Regions from separate parts of the Homo sapiens genome. Here region 1 is linked to region 2. The links come from fine-mapping of genetic effects on gene expression. A gene starts in region 2. The other region holds a variant in brackets. All regions are shown on one strand. Distances are from middle to middle. Region 1 overlaps SBNO2 (strawberry notch homolog 2). Region 2 holds the start of SBNO2 (strawberry notch homolog 2).

What was found.
Region 1: its variant is fine-mapped to the expression of SBNO2 in monocytes after Pam3CSK4 (Quach 2016, PIP 0.92).

Annotation. Positions count from the first base shown.
Region 1 is chr19:1,127,498-1,138,905 of GRCh38, forward strand. It overlaps SBNO2 (strawberry notch homolog 2), which reads right to left. Exons shown (of 32, transcript NM_014963.3): 5 at 107-268. Among named protein-coding and RNA genes, the nearest start is that of GPX4, 29 kb to the left of the region's middle. RefSeq lists enhancers at 3,534-4,198, 5,527-6,190, 6,209-6,710, 6,711-7,210. The variant A/C (reference allele first, on the strand shown) is at 4,928.
Region 2 is chr19:1,168,549-1,179,956 of GRCh38, forward strand. It overlaps SBNO2 (strawberry notch homolog 2), which reads right to left and starts at 5,720. Exons shown (of 32, transcript NM_014963.3): 1 at 5,624-5,720. LOC102725180 (collagen alpha-1(VII) chain) reads left to right here and starts at 285. Exons shown (of 3, transcript XR_005647046.2): 1 at 285-1,688; 2 at 4,471-5,336; 3 at 6,012-6,445. LOC102723798 (a long non-coding RNA gene) reads left to right here. Exons shown (of 4, transcript XR_007067079.1): 4 at 1-192. RefSeq lists enhancers at 4,088-4,646, 6,031-6,080, 8,836-10,035 and a silencer at 5,581-5,890.

The sequences.
Region 1 (11,408 bases), 41 kb before region 2:
GCACGCAGAGTGGGGGAGACTGAGACCTCACTGGACCGTGTGGGTCCCGGGCTGGGGAGGCCACGCTGGTGGGTCGGGGCTGGCTGGGGGCACCGGGCGCACTGACCTTATCGTGGGTGGAGGGGGCAGGGTTATCGTCCCAGATGGTGGACACCTGGTTGAGGCTGTCAGCCGGCAGGAAGTCGGGCGTGTCCACGATGTCCGACAGGGAGTCCACGGACGAGGAGAAGATGGAGATGTTGGAGAAGTCCTCAAAATAGGAGGAGTCCTGGAAGACAAGGCCAGGCCCGGTGAGGGTGGTACGGGAGACACCAAGGCCCCTCCACGCACTGGAGCACGTGGGGATGGGAGACACCACGGCCCTCCACACACTGGAGCATGTGGGAATGGGAGACACCACGGCCCTCCCAGGTTCAAGCAATTCTCCTGCCTCATCCTCCCAAGTAGCAGGGATTACAGGTGTGCGCCACCATGCCCAGCTAATTTTTTTGTATTTTTACTAGGGACGGGGTTTCACCATGTTGGCCAGCCTGGTTTTGAACTCCTGACCTCAAGTGATCTGCCTGCTTCGGCATCCAAAAGTGTTGGGATTACAGGCGTGAGCCACCATGTGACAGAGCGAGAGAGTGAGACTCCGTCTCAAAAAAGAAAAAAATAAACAAGCAATGGGTGAGAAACACCAACCCTCAGGGCCACGCAGGACGGCGTCTGACTTCTGCAGCACCTGAAGGGCAGCAATGCTGCAGGAACTCTGAGCAGCTCGGGTCTGGGGTGAGCCTGGTGCCATGCCCTGTGCCGGAGGCAGGGGCGGGGGCAGCCACGCCCAGAGGTGGGGCTCGCCATGGGGATGACACACACACACGCGCTGCCCAGTGAAGGAGATGTATGTACATCATTTCATTTTTTTTTTTTTGAGACGGATTCTTACACTGTCGCCCGGGCTGGAGTGCAATGGTGTGATCTCGTCTCACTGCACCCTCTGCCTCCCAGGTGCAAGCGATTCTCCTGCCTCAGCCTCCCGAGTAGCTGGGATTACAGGCACGTGCCACCACGCCCAGCTAATTTTTGTATTTTTAGTAGAGACGGGGTTTCACCGTGTTGGTCAGGCTGGTCTCGAACTCCTGACCTCAGGTGATCCATCCACCTTGGCCTCCCAAAGTGCTGGGATTACAGGCGTGAGCCACCGTGTCCGGCCACATGTGATGTCTCACGCCTGTAATCCCAGCACTTGGAGGCCAAGGTGGAAGATTGCTTGAGTCCAGGAGTTCAAGATTCGCCTGGACAATATGGCAAAACCCCATTTCTACTAAAAATACAAAAATTAGCTGGGTGTGGTGGTGCATGCCCGTAGTCCCAGCTACTCGGGGGGCTGAGGCGGGAGGATCACCTGAGCCCAGAGGGGTCAAGGCTGCAGTGAGCTGTTACTGCACAACTACATTCCAGCCTGGGTGACAGAGCAAGACTCTGTCTCAAAAAAAAAAAAAATAGACTGGGCATGGTAGCTCACGCCTGTAACCCCAGCACTTTGAGAAGCCAAGGTGGGCAGATCACCTGAGGTCAGGAGTTCAAGACCAGCCTGACCAATATGGTAAAACCCTGTCTTTACTAAAAACACAAAAATTAGCTGGGCATGGTGGTGCGTGCCTGTAATCCTAGCTACTCGAGAGGCTGGGGCAGGAGAACTGCTTGAACTCAGGAGGCAGAGGCTGCAGTGGGCTGAGATCGTGCCATTGCACTCCAGTCTGGGTGACACAGGGAGACTCCATCTCAAGAAAAACAAACAAAGAAAAAAACCAGGCATGTCAAGGGGGCGCTGTCTCTCCCTGGAAGCTGTGGGTTCCGTCCCCCTCACCTTGCTCAGCTTTGCCCACTGCCCACCCTGTCAGACCCAAGCACCTGGGCACTGATCACTAGGGACCTTCAGGAACCTGCCCCCAAACAGAGACCCCCGGGACAGAGGTGTCCATGCTGCCCGCCTGAGGCCCAGAGCCAGGTAGGGTGCAGCACCCCCCACCCCAGGAGGGTAGGAGCAGTCCACCTCCCAGAGCCTCTGGAGGCCCCGATCGGCAGGGTTGGGGAGCATTCATCCCACTGAGGCCCACGAGGGCCCTCCGGACACTGCCCACCCAGGCTGCAGAGGGCCTGGTCACGCTGACCTGTGGCCCGGACCCTCCGTGGAAGCATTTCCCGGGCAAGGTCAGGGGCTCCTGAGTTGGTCAAGGCCCCAGCCAGGAGCGGGGGTGAGTTGCTATCGGGCCCAGAACCGCCCAGGCCTTGGTGGTGCAGGGAGCGCAGGCAGAGCGGAGGAGAGCTCCCCAAACCCAAATGCGTGGGTCACACGGCCAGTCCTTCCCCGGAGCTCAGCGTGGACAGAGGGAAGGGACCTCAGGCAGAGACACCTGCCCCACGCCCTCACCAGGTGCCCTTGGCCCAAGAAGACAGGACAACAGGGTCCTCCCGCCCAGGGTCCTCCACCCAAAACTCCTGCCCCAGTCTGAGGAAACACCAGCCCGACTACTCCAGGGCATCCACACCACCCGACCAGCCCCAGGACCGCCCAACGCATCTGAAACACGGGCCTCTGAGAAACCATCACAGCCCAGAGGGGCCTGAGGAGACGCCTAAACACCACGTGGGGTCCTGGGCAGGAAAGGACATGGGGGAAACTGAGGCAATCCAAGCAAAGCGTGGGCCTCAGGAGTTAACGGTGGCGTACGGATGTTGGTTCATCAGCCGTGACAGCCACAGACGGGAGATAGAACAGCAGGGAGCCCGGGAGTGGGTGCACGGGGACTCTCTGCACTGTCCCTGCAGCTTTTCTGTCATTCTAAAACAGTTTGAAAAGTTAAAGTCAAGTCGGGCAGGGGGGAGCTCACGTCTGCTACTCAGGAGGCTGAGGCAGGAGGATCCGTTGAGCCCAGGTGGTCGAGGCTGCAGTGAGCTATAATTGCGCCACTGCACGCCAGCCTGGGAGACAGAGCGAGACCCTATCTCAAAAAAAAAGTTAAAAGTCAAGCAGGGCGTAGTGGCTCATGCCTGTAATCCTACTGTTTTAGAGCCAAGGTGAAAGAATCACTTGAGCCCAGGAGTTCAAGACCAGCCTGGGCAACACAGCAAGACTCCATGTCTACAGAACGTTTAAAAATTAGCTGGGCATGGCAGCATGTGCCTGCAGTCCCAGCTACTCAGGAGGCTGAGGTGGGAGGATTGCTTCAACCCAGTTGGTGGAGGTTGCAGGGAGCCGAGATCGTGCCACTGCACACCAGCCTGGGTGACAGAGCAAGTCCCTGTCACAAAAACAAATAAATAAAAGTGAAAGTCTAATAATGAGGGAGTGCTTGCAGCTTTCAGGCTTCAAGAACGCAGCCTCGAGGCCCCGCCCTGCTCCCCGTCCGGTCCTTCCCAGCACAGGACACCCCACCAGGTGCATGAGCCCTCGAAGCCTTCACTTCTAGCAGGTGCCCTCAGCGATTAGGGACAGAGGGAGACGGGGTTCCCAGGGCTGGCCCTGTTCACATGTGGGAAGCTGAACAGAGCCAGGCCAGCTCCCCCCACAGTGGCTCCGTCCTCTGCCCACATCTGGATTTGACTCCTAGCAGCCACCAGCTCACCTCAGAGACAGCCTAAGTCCCACCCGCGCCTGTGTGTCCCTCCACAGCCCCTCCAGGCCGGCCCAGGCTCCTGCATCCTTCACCACATGACCCACCCACCCTCCAGCCTCAGCTCAGCGGACCCAGTGCCTCCCCAGGGAACCGGGCCCCTCTGCAGTCTGTAGTGAGGGCAAGCACCAAGGCCCCTCAAGGGTGACACTTGCATCCCTCCCCGCCAGCCCCCAGTTCTGGGGCCCCAGGGAGGGCCGGGGCTGCCCGCTGTGGTTCTTGTCTCTGTAGCATTTCAGGAGCCCTGGGCTGAGGTGGGGAGCTGGGAGGACCTGGCTGGGAGGACCTGGCTCTGCCCGCTTCAAAAGCAGCAGACACAGCTCCTCCTGCCCTGGGCAGCCAACTCCAGACCTGACTCCAGAACTGACTCCAGACCTGATGTGCTGCCGCTGCCCTGTGCTCCAGGACCCATGGGGAGCCACAGAGCCACAGGGATTTGCCGGCCTGCGCCACCAGAGCCAGCCCTGACCAGGCCCACCCAGCCTCCGCTCCCTACAAGAGCCCCATAAGACACCCAGAGCCCCTCCACCTGAGGCTTCTCCAGAGGAAAGCCACAGCTCTGGGTCCTACCCCAGGGGCAGAAGGAGGGGGACGCAGCCCTCCCGACAGCCACTGCCACTGTCACTGAGGGCCCCCGTCCGGGCAGGGCTGAGCCCGACCCCCCCACTCCGCTCGGGTCCCCCAGCCTACGCACAGGGCGCCGCTCCCAGCCCGAAGTCTTAAATCTCTGCCTCGGAACCTTCCGGCAGATTCCCTCTCACTGCCAGAAGAGACGGACGGGGCGGGGTGGGGATTTTTTTAGATCCTGGCGGCCTCGGACTCTAGGATGAGATGCCGGCTGCTCCGGCAGGGGGCCCGGCCGTCCTGAATGGGGTCCCACCTCCCAGACCCCTGCCCCCGAGGGCCTCGCCCGCCCCGGGAAGGGAGTGTTACCTTGTTCAGAGCCTCAAACTGCAGCCACAGCTGCAGCTGGGACATGGTCCCGGCGCTCGGGGGGCCAGGGGTCCCCCAGGAAGCGCTGCCCGGGAGCGGCTCCCTCATGACCGCGGCAGCAGCCCCAGCATTGGGTCGGCCGGGGCGGACGGGGGCGGCTCTCCGCCCGGCTGCATTTGCATGTCGGTTTAGTCACCGCCGCCGGCGCCTACTTCCTCTAAGGCCGGGGCTGACTTTCAGGAAATGATGCCGGCCCCGTAAGTCAGGGCAATTACCGGCAGTGCGAGGAGAATTACTGTACGGGGCGGATCTCCCACAGGCGCTGTCAACACGCA[A/C]CCCCACCCGTGCCCCGCCGCAGGACCAGCCCCCTTTGGGGCACCCGGCGGACGTGCAGAATGCCCAGGTGGGCATGGGCCTCGGTCTCCCCAGACTGCAGGGAGCTGGGTTCCGTTCCACGGGGACCAGCTGCTGTTCCTGGTGCCCCCAAACCACAGGCAGGGAAACTGCGGCCAAGACCGCCTCCCTTCACCCAGCACCCCACGCATGCCAAGCGCACCTCAGGCCCTGCTGCGCCCCCCTGGGGCTCTCCCCACCCCACCCCTGCAGGCTGAGGTCCCCGAGAAGCCCCTGCCGCCGAAGCAAAGTCCCCTCCCTGCTCTTTCCCTGCTGTCCGTGCCCAGGGGGTTCAGCGGGCCCCGTGGCCTCCCTTGATCTGGGGCTGGCGGAGGGAGAGCTGAGCCTGGGCCCCTCCTCTCCAGGCTCTGGCCAGACCCGGCCTCGGCCCCCTGGGCAGGAACAAGTGGTAGCGTCCTGGGAAAAGAACGTTCTCGCTTTGGTAGAAAACCAAGTGTCAATGATGCACTTGCTGGGGCAACCCCGGGCCGCGAGCCCGCCCGCGGCCACACTCTTGCCCGCACTGTGAGGACCCTGGCGCATCACAGGGGCCTAGACACCGCGGGGCAGACACCTGATGGGACCTCACATTGGGCCACAGGCGGTCATTCTCGGTGTCCTTGGAGGAGCTGGGGAGGCCCCAGGGCCAGAGGGGGTGGGAGGACGGCCGGGCTGTGGAGAGGACGGGCCCCATCTGCCTGTACTCAGCGACTGACGGGGCAGAGGCCGCATTGCCCACGAGACCGCGGCCGAGACCGCGCAGGTGGCCACGGCTCCTCCTCTGTGAGGGGAGGAAGGGCCCGGCCCTGTGGCCAGGGGCCCTGGGAAAGAAGGAAACCGCCCCGAGAGGCCAGGGGAGCCCGTGGCTGGGCCGGAGGGCTCGGGACAGTTCTGGGCTTGTAAGACTCCCGCCAGGGCTCTGAGGGGAGAGTGGGACCAGGGGGCCCTCAAACCCTGTGCACTCCGCCCCCTCGGGCTCACCCTGTTCTAGACCCTGAGGCCCTGTGCCAGCCCCACTGGGGCCCCGCGACCAGGCACCGCAGCAGCGGAGGCTGGTGCAGACTGTCGCCCACACCCCTTGCCACGACCCATCACCTCCTGGAGGCTGGGCGACAACACGGGTCCGTGCCGCTGGGGCGAGGGGCCCGCCTGCCAGGCACCCCGCCCGCCAATGGAAAACAACCAATGGGGAAGAAACCCACGGAGCCGCTCAATCCGGCAGCCAATCACAGCCACCGCTCAACCTAGCAGCCAATCACAGCCACCGCTCAACCCAGTAGCCAATCACAGCCACCGCTCAACCCAGCAGCCAATCACAGCCACTCCCAGAGACAGCTCCACACCAGCTCCACGCAAAAAACCCACAACCACAAGCGCTGCTGAGGACGCGGGGCAGTGGCCTGGGAACCATCCTGCAGCTCCTCAAAAGAGGCGAATGGGGAGTAACAACCCAGCAGCTGCACTCCCACGTGCCATCAGGAGGACCCACAGCTCACAAAAGCCTGAACCTACAGCTCAGGAGTGGACCCACAGCCCACAGGACCCACAGCTCAAGGGTGGACTCACAGCTCACAGGACCCATAGCTCATGGGTGGACCCACAGCTCATAGGCGCCTGGACCCACAGCTCATGGGTGGACCCACAGCCCATAGGACCCACAGCTCACGGGTGGACTCACAGCTCACGGGTGGACTCACAGCTCACGGGTGGACTCACAGCTCACAGGTGGACCCACAGCTCACAGGACCTACAGCTCACGGGTGGACTCACAGCTCATAGGCACCTGGACCCACAGCTCACGGGTGGACTCACAGCTCACAGGACCTACAGCTCACGGGTGGACCCACAGCTCCCGGGTGGACCCTCAGCTCCCAGGTGGACCCACAGCTCATGACAGCCTGGCTCCTGCAGCGCAGTCACCACGGAGGAACAGGGCCAGCACAGTGAGGCCGTCCACACACTGGAACACGACCCAGCCATGAAAAGGAGCAAGGCTCTGACCCAAGCCACAGCACGGATGCACCTTGAGGACCTCACACTCAGTGAAAGACGCCAAACACAGAAGGCCACGCAGTGTGTGAGGCCATTTCTATGAAATGTCCTGTCCTGAACAGGAATCCACACAGACAGGAAAAGCATTCAGGTTATCAGGGGGTGGGGATGGGCTGGGGAGTGACAGCTGATGGGAACGGGGCTTCCTGTGGGATGATGGAATGTTCTGGAACTAGACAGAGGTGGTGGTTGCACAACTCTGTGAATATACTTTTTTAAAGTGTGGATTTGGGCCCGGCACGGTGGCTTACGCCTGTAATCCCAGCACTTTGGGAGGCCGAGGTGGGTGGATCACGAGGTCAGGAGTTCAAGACCAGCCTGGCCAGCATGGTGAAACCCCGTCTCTACTAAAAATACAAAAATTAGCCAGGTGTGGTGGTGGGTACCTGCAATCCCAGCTACTCGGGAGGCTGAGGCAGGAGAATTGCTTGAACCCGGGAGGCAGAGGTTACAGTGAGCTGAAATCGTGCCACTGCACTCTAGCCTGGGCAACAGAGCAAGACTCTGTCTCAAAAAAAAAAAAAAAAAAAAAAAAGGTGGATTTGGCCGAGCGTAGTGGCTCACACCTGCCATCCCGGCACTTTGGGAAGCTGAGGTGGGCAAACAGCTTGAGCCCAGGAAGTTCAAGACCAGCCTGGGCAACATAGTGAGATCCCATCTCCACAAAAAATACAAAAACCAGCTGCGCATGGTGGCGGGCACCTGTGGTCCCAGCTGCTCAGGAGGCCATGGCAGGAGAATCACTTGAGCTAGAGAGGTGGAAGCTGCAGTAAGTTATGATCACACCACTGCACTCCAGCCTGGGCAACAGAGCAAAATACTGTCTCAAATAAATAAAGTGGATTTTGTGGTATGTGAATTTTGTCTCAGTTTTTAAAAGACCTGGAAAGCAACGAAACAGAAAGAACAAGCACAGACTCCGACTTGCTCCCCAGGCCCCAATGTGACAGCACAGCCCAGGGTCCCTGGAGCAGGTCAGACTGAGGATAGGGGTGCGCCGCCTAGGGACCTGCTGGGCACTACCCCACCCACCTCCGGCGCCCCGCGCCCAGTCCTGGGCTCCCGTGGCCCGGTCTCTCCCTCCGCCTCTGTCCAGGGTGCACCCCTCACTGACCAGTCCCGCAGCAACGCTGACCGAGGGCTCCGTGTAAGCCTGGCTGAATGCCCGCTGCCTCAGCCCTCACAGGAACCCTGCCCTGCATTACAGGGAGGGAAACAGGCTACGGGGATGGGAGGGGCTCCTCCTGGAGGGGGCTGGGGGGCAGACAGAAGAGGCTTCCAGGTGGTCGTGGGGCACAGGTGGCACTTCCTAGACACTGCCAGTCTTTGGTGGCTGGGAGAAGGGCCCCTCAGCAGGCCTGGTCACTAGAGTGCCCCGTGCAGAGCTGAACTGTGTCCCCAAAATGGTGTGATCATGTCCTGGCACCTGGAAGCTGTGTGTGTGGCCTTATTTGGGAATCCGGTCCTTGCAGATGTGAGTGGTTAAAAAAAAAAAGGCCGCACTGGCCGAGCGGGTGTTCTGTGCCTGGTGTCCTCATTCGAAGGAGACACAGTCCCGGGGAGGAGGCCACGGGACACAGAAGCAGAGATCCCAGCCCTGCGGCCACAGCCAGGGGATGCCCGGATCCCCCAGATGCTGGAGGGGCCGGAAGGAGCGCGGCCCTGTCCGCACCTTGACTTTGGACTTCCAGGCTCCAGGGCTGGGAGGGGACAGAGTCCTGGCCTTTGAAGCTGTGTGTGCTGCTTCCTCACAGCAGCCCTGGGAGGCTGGCACGGCTCCCCAGGAAACTGGGCTCCCTTCTGTCAGGGTTCCGGCCAGGTGCCTGGTATGGGCCCTGGGGCCGCCGCCTCAGTGTCTTCTGGTGCTGCAGCCGGGCAGGGCCGAACCCTGGCGCACAGCTTCCTGCTGAGTCTCCCTCTCTAAGGCTGTCTGTGGGCGGCTCTGCCGGCCCCTCCTGCACCTGCCCAGGCCCTGGGCGGAGGCTCCTCCTCCCGGGGGGGCTGTGGCCTCAGCACAGACCAGGGGACAGAAGGTGGCTCTTCTTGGCCTTGGCTGGGTGTGAACCAAAGACTTCCTGTAAGAAATCCCCCTCTCCCTCTCCCTCCTTCGCTCCCTCATCTCTCTCCCTCTTTTTTGCCCAATGCCAGTAACTGTGGGGGCTCCGTGGTGCCGGATGGGCCGAGGCATCTGACCCCTGCTGAAACGCATCTGCAGAACAGTCAATGCTGCCTGCCTCCCTGCCTGAAAGCAGCCAGAGTTTGCAAAGCGCTTTTCTGAGCCGTGAGCTCATCCTGAGCTTCCCAGAAGCCCCCGGGCTGCCAGGCAGAGAGTGTTGTTACCGGACAGCTGCGTTCCCAATGGTCCCTGCAGCCCCATGGGGACCCGGGATGGATGCCCGGCAGGTGGAGAGGTCCTCACAGGACAGGTGGTGGGCAAGGGGGCAGCACCTGGGGAATGGGGATGGGCTGTGGGTGCCGAGAGCCCCAGGAGCCCAGCAGAGACGCAAGGGATCTGGGTGATGTCAGGAAGGGTGAAGGAGCACCCCCACCCCAGGAACAGGCGGCAAGGGATGGGCGAGGGGCAGTGAGGCGAGCAGGACCTGGGGAATGTCCTGTGTAGGGGCACAGGCTGGGGAGAGGCTTGGGCTGGGGTGCGGTTGGGGGAGGCTGGCACTGGGGTGCAGTGGAGGAGAGGCTCGGGCTGGGGTACAGTGGGGGGAGGCTCAGGCTGGGGTGAGGCTCGGGCCGGGGTGCGGTGGGGGGAGGCTCGGGCCGGGGTGCGGTGGGGGGAGGCTCGGGCCGGGGTGCGGTGGGGGGAGGCTCGGGCCGGGGTGCAGTGGGGGGAGGCTCGGGCCGGGGTGCGGTGAGGGGAGGCTCGGGCCGGGGTGCGGTTGGGGGAGGCTGGCACTGGGGTGCAGTGGAGGAGAGGCTCGGGCTGGGGTGCAGTGGGGGGAGGCTCGGGCTGGGGGGGTGAGGCTCGGGCTGGGGTGCGGTGGGGGGAGGTTCGGGCTGGGGTGCGGTGGGGGGAGGCTCGGGCTGGGGTGCGGTGGGGGGAGGCTCGGGCTGGGGTGCGGTGGGGGGAGGCTCGGGCTGGGGTGCAGTGGGGGGAGGCTCGGGCTGGGGTGCAGTGGGGGGAGGCTCGGGCTGGGGTGCAGTGGGGGGAGGCTCAGGCTGGGGGGAGGCTCGGGCTGGGGTGCGGTGGGGGGAGGCTCGGGCTGGGGTGCGGTGGGGGGAGGCTCGGGCTGGGGTGCGGTGGGGGGAGGCTCGGGCTGGGGTGCAGTGGGGGGAGGCTCAGGCTGGGGGGAGGCTCGGGCTGGGGTGCGGTGGGGGGAGGTTCGGGCTGGGGTGCGGTGGGGGGAGGCTCGGGCTGGGGTGCGGTGGGGGGAGGCTCGGGCTGGGGTGCGGTGGGGGGAGGCTCGGGCTGGGGTGCAGTGGGGGGAGGCTCGGGCTGGGGTGCAGTGGGGGGAGGCTCAGGCTGGGGGGAGGCTCGGGCTGGGGTGCGGTGGGGGGAGGCTCGGGCTGGGGTGCGGTGGGGGGAGGCTCGGGCTGGGGTGCGGTGGGGGGAGGCTCGGGCTGGGGTGCGGTGGGGGGAGGCTCGGGCTGGGGTGCAGTGGGGGGAGGCTCAGGCTGGGGGGAGGCTCGGGCTGGGGTGCGGTGGGGGGAGGCTCGGGCTGGGGTGTGGTGGGGAGGAGACCAGAAGAGGCACCAGGGGCTGCCCTGGGGGACACTCACCCCACACAGAAACAGGTGCCGGAGAGCCTGGGGGTGGGGCCGCGAGGCTGGGCTGGGCCTGGAGCAGGGGACCCACGGGAGGCTCTGGGCACAGAGGGTGGGCTGCAGCAGCAAGGGCCCCTTATCCTCGAGCAGGAACCCAACACCCCCCAGCCAGACCCAGTCATGCCTGGAACACACAGACATGGACCTGCATATGGACGCTGCTAACAGCGATTCACAGCTGCTGTCAACCCATACCTACTCCTGGGTATGAGCCCAAGAGAAACGAAAACGTGTCCACTGGGAAGTTTGCACCCGTGCTCACGGCGGCACAACTCACGACGGCCACGGGTGGAAGCAGCACAAGCGTCCATCACGGACACACAGACAGACACAGTGGGGCCCTCCACGCCTCCATCACAGACAGACACAGTGGGGCCCTCCACGCCTCCATCACAGACGGACACAGTGGGGCCCTCCACGCCTCCATCACAGACAGACACAGTTGGTCCTCCACGCCTCCATCACGGACAGACACAGTGGGGCCCTCCACGCCTCCATCACGGACAGACACAGTTGGTCCTCCACGCCTCCATCACGGACAGACACAGTGGGGCCCTCCATGCGTCCATCACGGACAGACACAGTGGGTCCTCC
Region 2 (11,408 bases):
TGTCCCCACGAAGCCTGGCCCTCTCACAGCGTAGGGAGGCTGCGGTCACCAGCGTGGGTCCCGCGACCCATTCCACCCGGCCCCTGGGCACCGGAAGCCAGGCGGCGAGCGCAGCAGACCCCAGAGGCAGCTTTCCTCAGTTTACCTGACATGCAAAGGAAGACGCCTCCTCACTCCAGGCTGGACGGGCAGCCGACGGCGGTCCGGGGCCATGGCGGGCAGGGACTTTCTCCGTGACCCTCCCTGGCTGCCCCTCCCCAGCAAGTGAGTCAGTTCCAGAAACGTTTACTGCCCGCCAGGCCCGAAGGCTCACCGGCTCCCCCTCCCCACGCCCCAGCACCCAGGGCCTTGGCCCCAGGAGCCCACAGCGGCAGAGACTCCCAGGAAACGCGAGTGAGCCGCCTTCCGGAACCTGGCGCACATCACTTTCAAAACGCAGCGGGGCCTGGAACCAAGGCCAAGGCCGCCTCTTTCGGTTTCACTTGGACGCTTGTTCTTGCTGGGGATGGAGGTCAATCACAAGGCTCCGGGAAGCACGGGCACGAGTCACAAAGCAGGTCACTGAGACAGCGGCACCAGGCCCGCCAGTCCGATCTGCTGACCCCAGCCAGGGCCCAGCACTCCCATGCCCTGCACTGCACGAGGCTGCCCGGGACAGTGCCTGCAGGGGAGATGACTCGGCAATGACTCTCTGGGCCCCTCCTCCCACCCCATCACTCATGGGGTTGTCCAGGGCAAGAGGCCCAGGGGAATCCGCAGGAGAGCCAGGGCACAGGGCACGAGTGCGGCCCCAGGCTGAGGCCTCCGTGGGACTGAGCTTCAGGGCCACGCTGCCATGCTGAGCTCTCACGGGGCCTCCGCCTGGACCACCAGGCACCCTCAGGCTGACTGGCCCCTGTGTGCCACCCATGTGGCCCAAGGCCTGTCCCCCTCATGCCAAGAGCCCCGTAGGGCCCCTTCGAGTAGAATGCAGCATTCCCTGCCCCTCCGAAGCAGTGAGTGGTTCAGGGGCAGAGCTGGGCCTGGGCGAGGGGCCCCCGGGGGGTGGGGTGATGCCATCACTGTTGCCGTCCTACGGGTTGAGACAGGACAGCTGCCCATCACCCCTTGATGCAAGCTGGCTGCAGGCTGCCTGACCAGTTCCCGGGGACACCGTGCTCAACCCTGTGGTGACAACTGGGGATTCCGAAGGACAGGGAGGTCTTACTTTCTGTTAAACACTTTTATTTTCCCTGAGATACAATCCACACCAGGAGGGGCACCTGTCCGGAGCATATGACTCAACGGTTTCAACGTATTCTAAGGCAGACCACCACAGCTTCTAATTCCAAAACATTCCGCTCCCCCAAAACACAGCCGTGTCCCCAACAGCAGTCACTCCCCCGCCTCTACAGCCCCTGCAACCACACGCCCACTTCTCTTCTGTGGACTGGCCTGCTCTGGACACGTGACCACACGTCTACCCCCCATCTGTGGACTGCCCTGCTCTGCACACGTCACATGAACGGAGTCACGTGCCGTGGCCTTTTGCGTCTGGCGTCTCTCCGCAAGCACGTCTCCGCAGAGCATCCATGCCGGGCGCACAGACGACAGATCTAATCTCCGCCTCCTCACGGGGCCCAGGAGGCCCAGGGCGAGAGCTGATGGGGCCCACGCATCCGAAATCCCCGTCTTGGCCAGAACCCCAGGTTTGCCTTCGCCCGCAGGGCTGAGCCCTCTCCTGAGTCCTGGGCCCTGTGACGGGTGACCACACCTCCCAGCAGGGAGGCAAGGTGACCACGGGGCTGGCAGTCTGCTCTTCGTCCCAGCCCGAGGGTGCAGGTGCCGGCCAACCTCCCGGGGGTTGGGGGCGAGAGTGCAGAGGCGAGGGGCAAGGCTGAGAGTCCACCCACACTGCCGGGCGGACAGCGGGCAGGCCAGGACGAGAACCAGGTTGGGGTGACCTCGCTTTTAGGCTTCAACCCGGCAGCTGGACACACCCAGCCCTCCCCGTGTGCTGTCTGACCACACAGCCCTCGGCTGTGGAAAAAGTGACTGGAGGTATTCCAGGCCTGCCCGCAACAAATCACACACACATGCACACAGGGACAGGCCACACACGTGCACACAACACACGCACACATACAAAACACACGTGCACAAGACATGCACAAGCAGGGGTGCATGAGAACACGCAGCACGCACACAACACACACAACGGACACGTGCATAACGGACACAGGTGCACAGGCAACATGCGGGCACACACAACATGCACACAAAGTACACGTTTGCATGAGCACGGGTGCAAAGGTCATACACATGCACCCACAACACAAACACACACAAAATACATGTGTGAGCAACACACGCAAGCATGGGCACATGGGCACAGGCAACACACACATGAGCACACACACAAAATACACACAACCACCAAAATACACACACACAACATACGAGGACAGGCACACAGGCACGGGCAACACACAAAATACAGACACACATAACCGACTCATGAACATGGGTACACACAGGCACACACACAACACAAACACGGGTGCACAGGCACACACAACACACAAACACGGATGCACAGACACGCACACAATGTGCACCCATAAAACACACGCGTATGAAACACACGAGCAACACACACATGCACAGGAGCACACAGCCACAGGCACGCACATTCACACACACACAACGCACCCACATCCGTACAACACACACACAGAACGCGCACACGTCCGTACGACGCACACACAGAATGCACGTGCGTACGTACAATGCACACAAAGAATACACACATCCATACAACACACAGGCACACAACACACATGTGCATGCACATGGCGCAACATACAGATACACAAAGACACGTGTACACACACATGCAGAGTCCCCAGGGCAGCGCTGGCGTCATGGGGGGCTGCCTCCACACCGCCTCCAGGAGTGTTTACAGCTGTGGATTACATGATACCGCCCCCTTCCCAGAGCTGATCCCACCCCCCAGCATGGGGGCCCCCTGGGAGGGGGCCTCTGGGAGCCGGACTGGTTCTGTCGACACAGTCGCCTCTTTGTTCGGGGCAGAGCTCACTCTGGCGGTGTTGGCGTTTCCGCATGGGCCCTGCCGGAGGGGCATCCGTGACTCCGCTGGAGCCGGGTTGGGCCAAGCCCAAGCTGGTCACACCCCTCACACCCCTGGGGTTGGGGGAGGCCTTAGGCAGCAAGTGGGTGGGGGGTCTAGGGGTGGCTGGCGCAACCTCTCTCCACCTCGGTTTCCCCGCCAGGTGAGAGGGCAGTGACTGCCCATGGTCACGCGGCTGGAGAACATGCACCCTCTCCTCCGCACCTGCACACCTGGGTGCCTCCTGTCTAGCCCAGACTCCAAAGCCAACCAAGAGTGAATGGATGAACGGAGAGGCCAGACCCCAAAGCAAACTGAGAGTGAATGGATGAGGGAAGCTCCTGCTGCCTCTTCTGTGCTCTGACAGGCTCCCTCCCCCTGAAGTCCAGCCCCTGCCTGCACAGCCCCCTCCACACCAGGGCCCTCCTGGCTCCTGGCAGGTGTGGGCAGATGTCTGCCGGGATCCTCAGAGTTAAACAAAAGCCTCCTCCCTGTGCTCTGAAATCACACTCCAGGGGCTGGCAGGCGCCTTCCAAGTCCTTCCCTCTCCAAGGACGAGAGCCTGCCTGCGTCTCCTCTGCCGTCTCCCCTGCCGTGGGAGGCCCTGAGGCCCCCATCCTGCTGTTCTCCATCCCACCCACCAAGGGGTCCAGATCTCAAATTCGCCCTTTCTCGGCAAGAACTCTGAAGGTGGCCCGGAGCAGGCCACTGTGAGAAGCCATCACCCCACGACCAGGGTCACCCCTGGGAAAATCTGGGGCCGGGCAGCCAGATCCCTGAAGGCCAGAGGATGTCTGGGAAGAAAGGGCGTGGACGGCACCTGCTGGGCCTGCCACAAACTCTCTGGGTCCCATGTCCCCGCTGCTCCTCTTCCAGGGCCGAGTCAGGGAGAGACATCCCAGGGAGGGCACCCGAAACAGCACAGCACCCCTCAGTCAGGAAGCAGTGCCGGCTGCCCTGGCCCGGAGGAAGAGGCCTGGAAGAAAGTTTGAAGCCTGTAATCCCCGTGTAATCGGGCTGGCTGCCCACGGGGTCTGCGGCCCTGGGTCCTCGGCCCCTCCCATGCTCTTCTCTTGAACCTCGGCTTCCTCTGCCCCTCTGTAAAACACTCACTGCAACCGCCCCCCCCGCCCCGGCAAACTGGCAGCCAGCATCAGCACAGGCCAGCTCCGAGGCCGGGCACTCTCGCTGACAGGGCGTGCAACAGATGGCACCAAACCTATCCCGTCCCGTCCCAGCAGTCACAGGCAGGAAGGACGTTCTGAGCAGGCGGGAACAACAGGCATTCCGGGAAGAAGCAGCCAGGGGAGGCCCCGGCTACACATTTAAGAGATTTTTTTTTTTTTTTTTTAACTTTTCAGAATGTTAATCAGTTCATCCAGGGAGACACCCACCGTCCCTGCCCCAGCACCATCCGTGCCCGGCGTCCCTGGAGGCGCTGGGTGGGCTCTCCACAACGCCTGCCCCCCACGCCCCAGGTCAGTCTGGGGATTGGTCCCTCCAGGCCCCACCTGCCTTATTCTTCGGGACTCTGGGGTGGTGGGAAGAGTGCCCTACGGGGGACAGGACCCACCAGGAGGCCTGCGCTTCCCCTTCACCGACACACGCTGCTCCCGGGCCCCACTCGGGCCATCTCAGCCCGCTACCCTCCCTCCCGCCTGTCCCTGGAAGCCGGGTTTGAATGCGACCCGCACTCCCACCCCCAACACGCTCTGCAGACTCCGCCCAGACGGCCCCGGGGTCACCTAATATCAGCAAGCCCCCATCCCAAACCGGGGGACCTCCATGCAGAAACCGAAAAACCATCTGCCCCAGAAGAGAAGTCGGAGGCCCCAGGAGCGGGAGGGGCGGGGAGCAAGGGGAGGGAGGGAGACAGGGCTGCGCTGCGGGGCCGAGAAGGCAAGGGTCCTGGGACCGGGGACAAGGAGGAGGAAGGGGCACGAACGCCCGAGGAGCCTGGAGTCAGGAATCGGGGCGGCGGGAGAGACCGGGGGTCACTCCCAGGAAGGGGTCGAGGTCACGAGGCGCATGGAGTCGAGAGTCCCCAAAAGGGAAGGCCAGGATACCGAGGAAAAGCGGGTGCGGGGTCACCAAGGGGCTCGGGGGCACCGATGAGTGCGGGGTCAAGGGTTACCAGAAAACGAAAGGTCGGGGGTCACCAAGCTGCGCGGTACAGGGAGTCACCCGGAAGAGCGGGAAGGAAAGGTTGGGAGGGTTGTCGTGGAAGGTAGGGTTAAGGTTCACGGCAGGGGGTCGCCGGGGGGCGGGGGGGCAGGTCAAGGTTCACGGCGGTGGTCGCGGGGCAGCGCGGGGTCAACGTTGGCGGCGAAGGGCGGGGTCGGAAGGGGTCGCGGCGGAGGGCGGGGGTCCCGCCGCGCTCGCCCCCGCCCCACGGCCCCCAGAACCCCCAGCCCCGGGCGCAGGGGTCCGCGGGGAGCGCCGGACCCACAAGCGGGGTCGGGCCAGGCAGGGGTCGCGGTGGAGCCGGGGCGGGGGTCGCAACCAGAGCCTCACCTCGGGCCCGGGTCCGGCCGGGCGCGGAGCCCGCGGCGCCTGTTTCTCCGAGCCTCGCAGCTGCCGCCGCTCACTTCCGGGTTTCGGGCGCCATCTTGGGGGCCCCGCGCACTTCCGGTCATGCCGCGGGGCGGGGCCTCCACCTGCGGGGGCGTGGTCTCGGTTCGGGGGCGGGGCCACCTTCCAAGCCAATCCCTTGAGGTCCTTCCGCTATTCGGAAGGGGCTGGGACTCCTACGGCTCTGGGTTCGAATCCCGCCCTGCCTGGTTCTCTTGAGACCCCAGCATGTGCTTTCACCTCCTCAAGCCTCAGTTTCCTCTTCTGCACCGTGCTGGTGAAATGGAATCTGCTTTGTGGTACAGCATCCCCTTTTTTCCTCCTTCCTCAGAACCCCCTCCAAGCCTCTGCATGTGCCACGTCCCCCACTGGGGCTCACTCACCCGAGACTTTTAAACTGAGACTCCCTCAAAAGCTACTAAGACGATCACCAGCCGGGCGCAGTGGCTCACGCCTGTAATCGCAGCACTTTGAGAGGCTGAGGCGGATGGATCACTTGAGGTCGGGAGTTTGAGGCCAACCTGGACAATATGATGAAACCCCGTCTCTACTAAATATACAAAAATTAGCTGGGCGTGATGGCGGGCACCTGTAATCCCAGCTACTCAGGAGGCTGAGGCAGTAGTATCGCTTGAACCTGGGAGGTAGTTATTGCAGTGAGCTGAGATCGCACCACTGCACTCCAGCCCGGGCAACAGAGTGAGACTCCATCTCAAAAATAAATAAATAAATAACGAAATAAAATAAAATGAAATAAAATCATCACCTCTGGGCCTGTCAGACATACTCTCTCACGAAAAGTTATCTCTGTTCATTAATCTCTCTCCCTAACCAAATACAGTTCTGGACGCTTCAGCATGGTGACTGGCACATGGGGGTTTGGGTAAGTCCCAGGGGCTACCCCCAAGAGAGCAGGATCCTTTCAGGCAGGGCCACGGGGGCCTGAGGGGCTCCTCCTCTCGGTGGCTGTGGTGGGAGGCTGCCCTGCGTGGGGAGCTGGAGTCTCAGGGCACTTTTCCTGTGACTTGAGCCAGTGAAGGCAGATCCAGTGTGGGAGGCACCACCGCCTCCCCAGCCCAATTTCAGCCATGACAATACTGATACAGCTCCCTGGACCCAAGCAGCCACAAGCCAGAGGCCTCTGCCCCCATTCCAACCCCCTGAAACTAGAGTTGATTTCTCCATGACTTTGTTAATTCATTCAGTGACTTCTAATCGATGCTGCTCTGTGCTTGGTCATGAGCTGGGAAAACCCAGGGTCTCACAGAGGACTCAGCTGTCTGTCCCAACATCAGAAAGCCCCTGGTCTAGGGGAGAGAGAACCAGGACCAGACACTCCAATATGCGGGATCTCTGGGAGGGTTGAAATGTCTGCCTAGGGCTTCATAGAGGGCTGCATGCTGAAGAGTGTGTTGAAGCTGGGGTTTTGAAGTTCAAGTAGGAGTGTACCAGGTAGACAAGAGTAGGAAGAACAGTCCGGGCAAAGAAGGCCTGGTAAGGCAGATAATAAGCAGGTTTAAGATATTTTAGCACCTCTCTAAAAAACTGAGGCCAAAAGCCAGGCACGGTGGCTCACGCCTGTAATCCCAGCACTACGGGAGTCTGAGGCAGGAGGAACACCTGAGGTCAGCGGTTTGAGACCAGCCTGGCCAACATGGTGAAACCCCATCTCTACTAAAAGTACAAAAAAGTTAGCTGGGCATGGTGGTGCCTGCCTGTATTCCCAGCTACTAGGGAGGCTGAGGCAGGAGAATCGCTTGAACCCAGGAGGTAGAGGTTGCAGTGAGCTGAGATCACACCACTGCACTCCAGCCTGGGCGATAGAGTGAGGTTCGGTCTCAAAAAAACAAACAAACAAAAAACGGTGGCTCACGCCTGTAATCCCAACACTTTGGGAGGCTGAGGTGGGTGAATCACCTAGGTCAGAAGTTCAACACCAGCCTGACGAACATGGTGAAACCCTGTCTCTACTAAAAATACAAAAATTAGCCAGGCGTGGTAGTGGGTGCCTGTAATCCTGACTACTCAGGAGGCTGAGGCAGGAGAATCACTTGAATCTGGGAGGCGGAGGTTGCAGTGAGCTGAGATCGCGCCATTGCACTCCAGCCTGGGTGACATGACAAGACCCCGTCTAAAAAAAAAAAAAAAAAAAAAATTTCAGGCCAAGGACCCCTGTCATCAAACCCAAAAGCACAAGGGGGCAGATGGGGAAACTCAGACCCAGAAGGCAGAAGTGATATGTCCAGAGTGAGATGCAGAAGGCGCACAAGGACATTTTGTCCTTCAGCTCATTGGGGGTCTCCTTTACCCATGGTGACAGAACGGCGTCCACCTGTTGTGAGCTTTTCCTCAGAGTCCCGCAGAGCAGCCGGACCCGACAGAGATACTTCCCTCCACACTGAATCTCTTTTTTTTTTTTTTTTTTTTGGGACGGAGTCTGGCTCTGTCGCCCAGGCTGGAGTGCAGTGGCGCAATCTCAGCTCACTGCAAGCTCCACCTCCCAGGTTCATGCCATTCTCCTGCCTCAGCCTCCTGAGTAGCTGGGACTGCAGGCGCCCGCCACCACCCCGGCTAATTTTTTGTATTTTTAGTAGAGACGGGGTTTCACCGTGTTAGCCAGGATGGTCTCGATCTCCTGACCTCGTGATCCGCCCGCCTCGGCCACCCAAAGTGCTGGGATTACGGGCGTGAGCCAACGCACCCGGCCAAATCTCCTTTTTTTTGAGATGGAGTCTTGCTGTGTCTCCCAGGCCGGAGTGCAATGGCATGACCTCTGCCTCCCGGTTTTGGCAAACTGGGTGCTCATCTCAACTTTGAGACTATTTTCTCTTTTTTTTGAGATGGAGTTTCACTCCTGTTGCCCAGGCTGGAGTGCATTGGCGCAATCTTGGCCCACTGCAACCTCCTCCTCCCCTGTTCAAGTGGTTATCCTGCCTCAGCCTGCCAAGTAGCTGGGATTACAGGCATGTGCCACCATGCCCAGCTAATTTTGTATTTTCCGTAGAAATAGGGTTTCTCCATGTTGGTCAGGCTGGTCTCAAACTCCTGACCTCAGGTGATCTGCCTGCCTCGGCCTCCCAAAGTGCTGGGATTACAGGCATGAGCCACCGTGCCTGGCTGAGACTCTTTTCACAGCAAATTGAACAGCAGTTAAATTGAGCAATAGGCACTAAAGATTTGGAAGGGTGAGGAAGCCAGCCTGGGGACTGGAGGGTGGCGGCTGCATCTGCTCATTTCCTCCCACACTGGACCATCCACACAACTTTTGAGGATCAGTGGAAATGAAAACACGGTGCCCCGGCACAAAACATATTTCATAGCTTGGGTTAGGCAACAGCAAAGCATCACGCTGAGCGCCGGGACCTTCTGAGTGCAGGCGGTGGGCGAAGCCCCGAGTCACACACACCCACGACGCCGGCCCTGCTCCCACAGCGGCCCTCTGGGGTAGCGACTGGTATTACCTGCATTTCACGAGGGAGGAAACTGAGGCACGAACTGTTCAGAAGCTGCCCTGAGGTCACCAAGTGAGCTAGGAAGAGGCGTGGGCTCGATCTCTGCCACATCCACCTCGGGAAACCACAAGGTCTCGATGGGTGATTTTGCCTAAAGTGGGGGCAGTTTGCCCAGGCCGGGGTGGGTCCAGCCATCTCAGCAGGCAGGAATCTGCCAAGTTGGGGGATGCTTAGGGAATTAGTCAGATGCGGGGATTTCCAGGGAATCACAGGGGGTGGCTCCGGAAAGCAGCAGGGACACAGTACTGGGGCTCATGGCCCAGCCTGGAGTACAGTGCTGTGAATCTGCTGTGTGACCCAAGGAGAGTTACTTAACCTCTCTGTGCCCCGGTTTTCCCACCTATAAAATGGGGAGGGTGATAATAATAGCAACTAGTGGCCGGGCACGGTGGCTTATACCTGTAATCCCAGCACTTTGGGAGGCTGAGACGGGAAGATCACGAGGTCAAGAGATTGAGACCATCCTGGATAACATGGTGAAACCCTGTCTCTACTAAAAATACAAAAATAAGCCGGACATGATGGTACGTACCTGTGGTCCCAACCACTCCGGAGGCTGAGGCAGGAGAATCGCTTGAACCCGGGAGGCGGAGGTTGCAATGAGCTGAGATCGCACCACTGCACTCCAGCCTGGGCAACAGAGCAAGACTCTGTCTCAAAAAAAATAATAATAATGATAATAATAATAATAGCAACTAGCTGCTAGGTTGTTCAGACAACTCAATGGACAGACAGTGCCTAATAGAATTTAACCACTACGAATATTTCCAAATGAAATTCTTTTTTTTTTTTTTTTTGAGACGAAGTCTGGCCCTTTCACCCAGGCTGGAGTGCAGGGGCATGAGCTCAACTTAGTGCAACCCCTGCCTCTTGGGTCCAAGTGATTATCTTGCCTCAGCCTCCCAAGTAGCTGGGATTACAGGCACGTGCCACCATGCCCGGCTAATTTTTGTATTTTCAGTAGAGGCAGGGTTTCACCATGTTGACCAGGATGGTCTCGAGCTCTTGACCTCGTGATCCGCCTGCCTTGGCCTCCCATATTGCTGGGATTCCAGGCTTGAGCCACCCTAGGGAAATTCTTGATTTTCCTCGGCCCAGTCCATGGCGTCACTGAAGTGGATGTTCAATGAGAAAATAATAAGGATGAATGCTGCAGTTGGAGTTCAAGAGAGGAGGCATTTTTGACGCCACAGATGGGCAGAGATGGGGTGAGGGCCCTGGCCGGCACCAGCTCTCCTGGCTCAGACTTTGGAAGCCGCCCCCCAGGGGAGACGCTCAACTGGTCAGAGGTGTGGATAGCCCCGTCCCCCAGTAGTCCCACCCCGCAGAGAGCTCTCAGGCTTCCAGCTCTGGCCCAGGCCCAGGTCCTCGGTGCCATGTGAAGGGTGGAGAGCTCTCCTGGGGGACAGAGTTGTACATTTGTGGAGGTTTTCTGGTGGGGCTGTGTTTGACGTCAACACTCTCCTCCCTAAACCCTCCCTCTTCCCCATCCCATACAGGTCCTCCTAAATGTCTTCCCAGCCCCTTCGAGAGAATTGTGGAAGTGGGGTTGCCAGATCAAACACAAGACACCCAGTTAAAATTCAACTGTAGGTACGTGACGAGTACTTTTTGTTGCTGCTGCTGTTGTTGTTCTTGTTGTTTTTGAGACGGAGTCTCGCTCCGTTGACAAGAAGGCTGGAGTGCAGTGGCGCGATCTTGGCTCACTGCAACCTCCACCTCCCGGGTTCAAGTAATTCTCTGCCTCAGCCTCCCGAGTAGCTGGGACTACAGGCACCCGCCGCCACACCCGGCTAATTTTTTGTATTTTTAGTAGAGACGGGGTTCCACCATCCTGGCCAGGCTGGTCTTGAACTCCTGACCTCGTGATCCACCTGCCTCAGCCTCCCAAAGTGCCAGGATTACAGGCGTGAGCCACTGCGCCCAGGCTTTGTTGTTGTTTGAGACTGGGAATCACCCTGTCGCCCAGGCTGGAGTGCAGTGGTATAGTCACAGCCCACTGCAGCCTCTGCCTGCTGCGCTCAAGCAATCCTCCCCAGTCAGCCTCCTAAGTAGCTGGGACTACAGGTATGCACCACCATGCCTGGCCAATTTTTTTACTTTTTATAGAGACGGGGTTTCACCATTTTACCCAGATTAGTCTTGAACTCCTGAGCTCAAGCAGTCCTCCCACCTTGGCCTCCCAAAGTGCTGGGATTACAGGCATGAGCCATCAC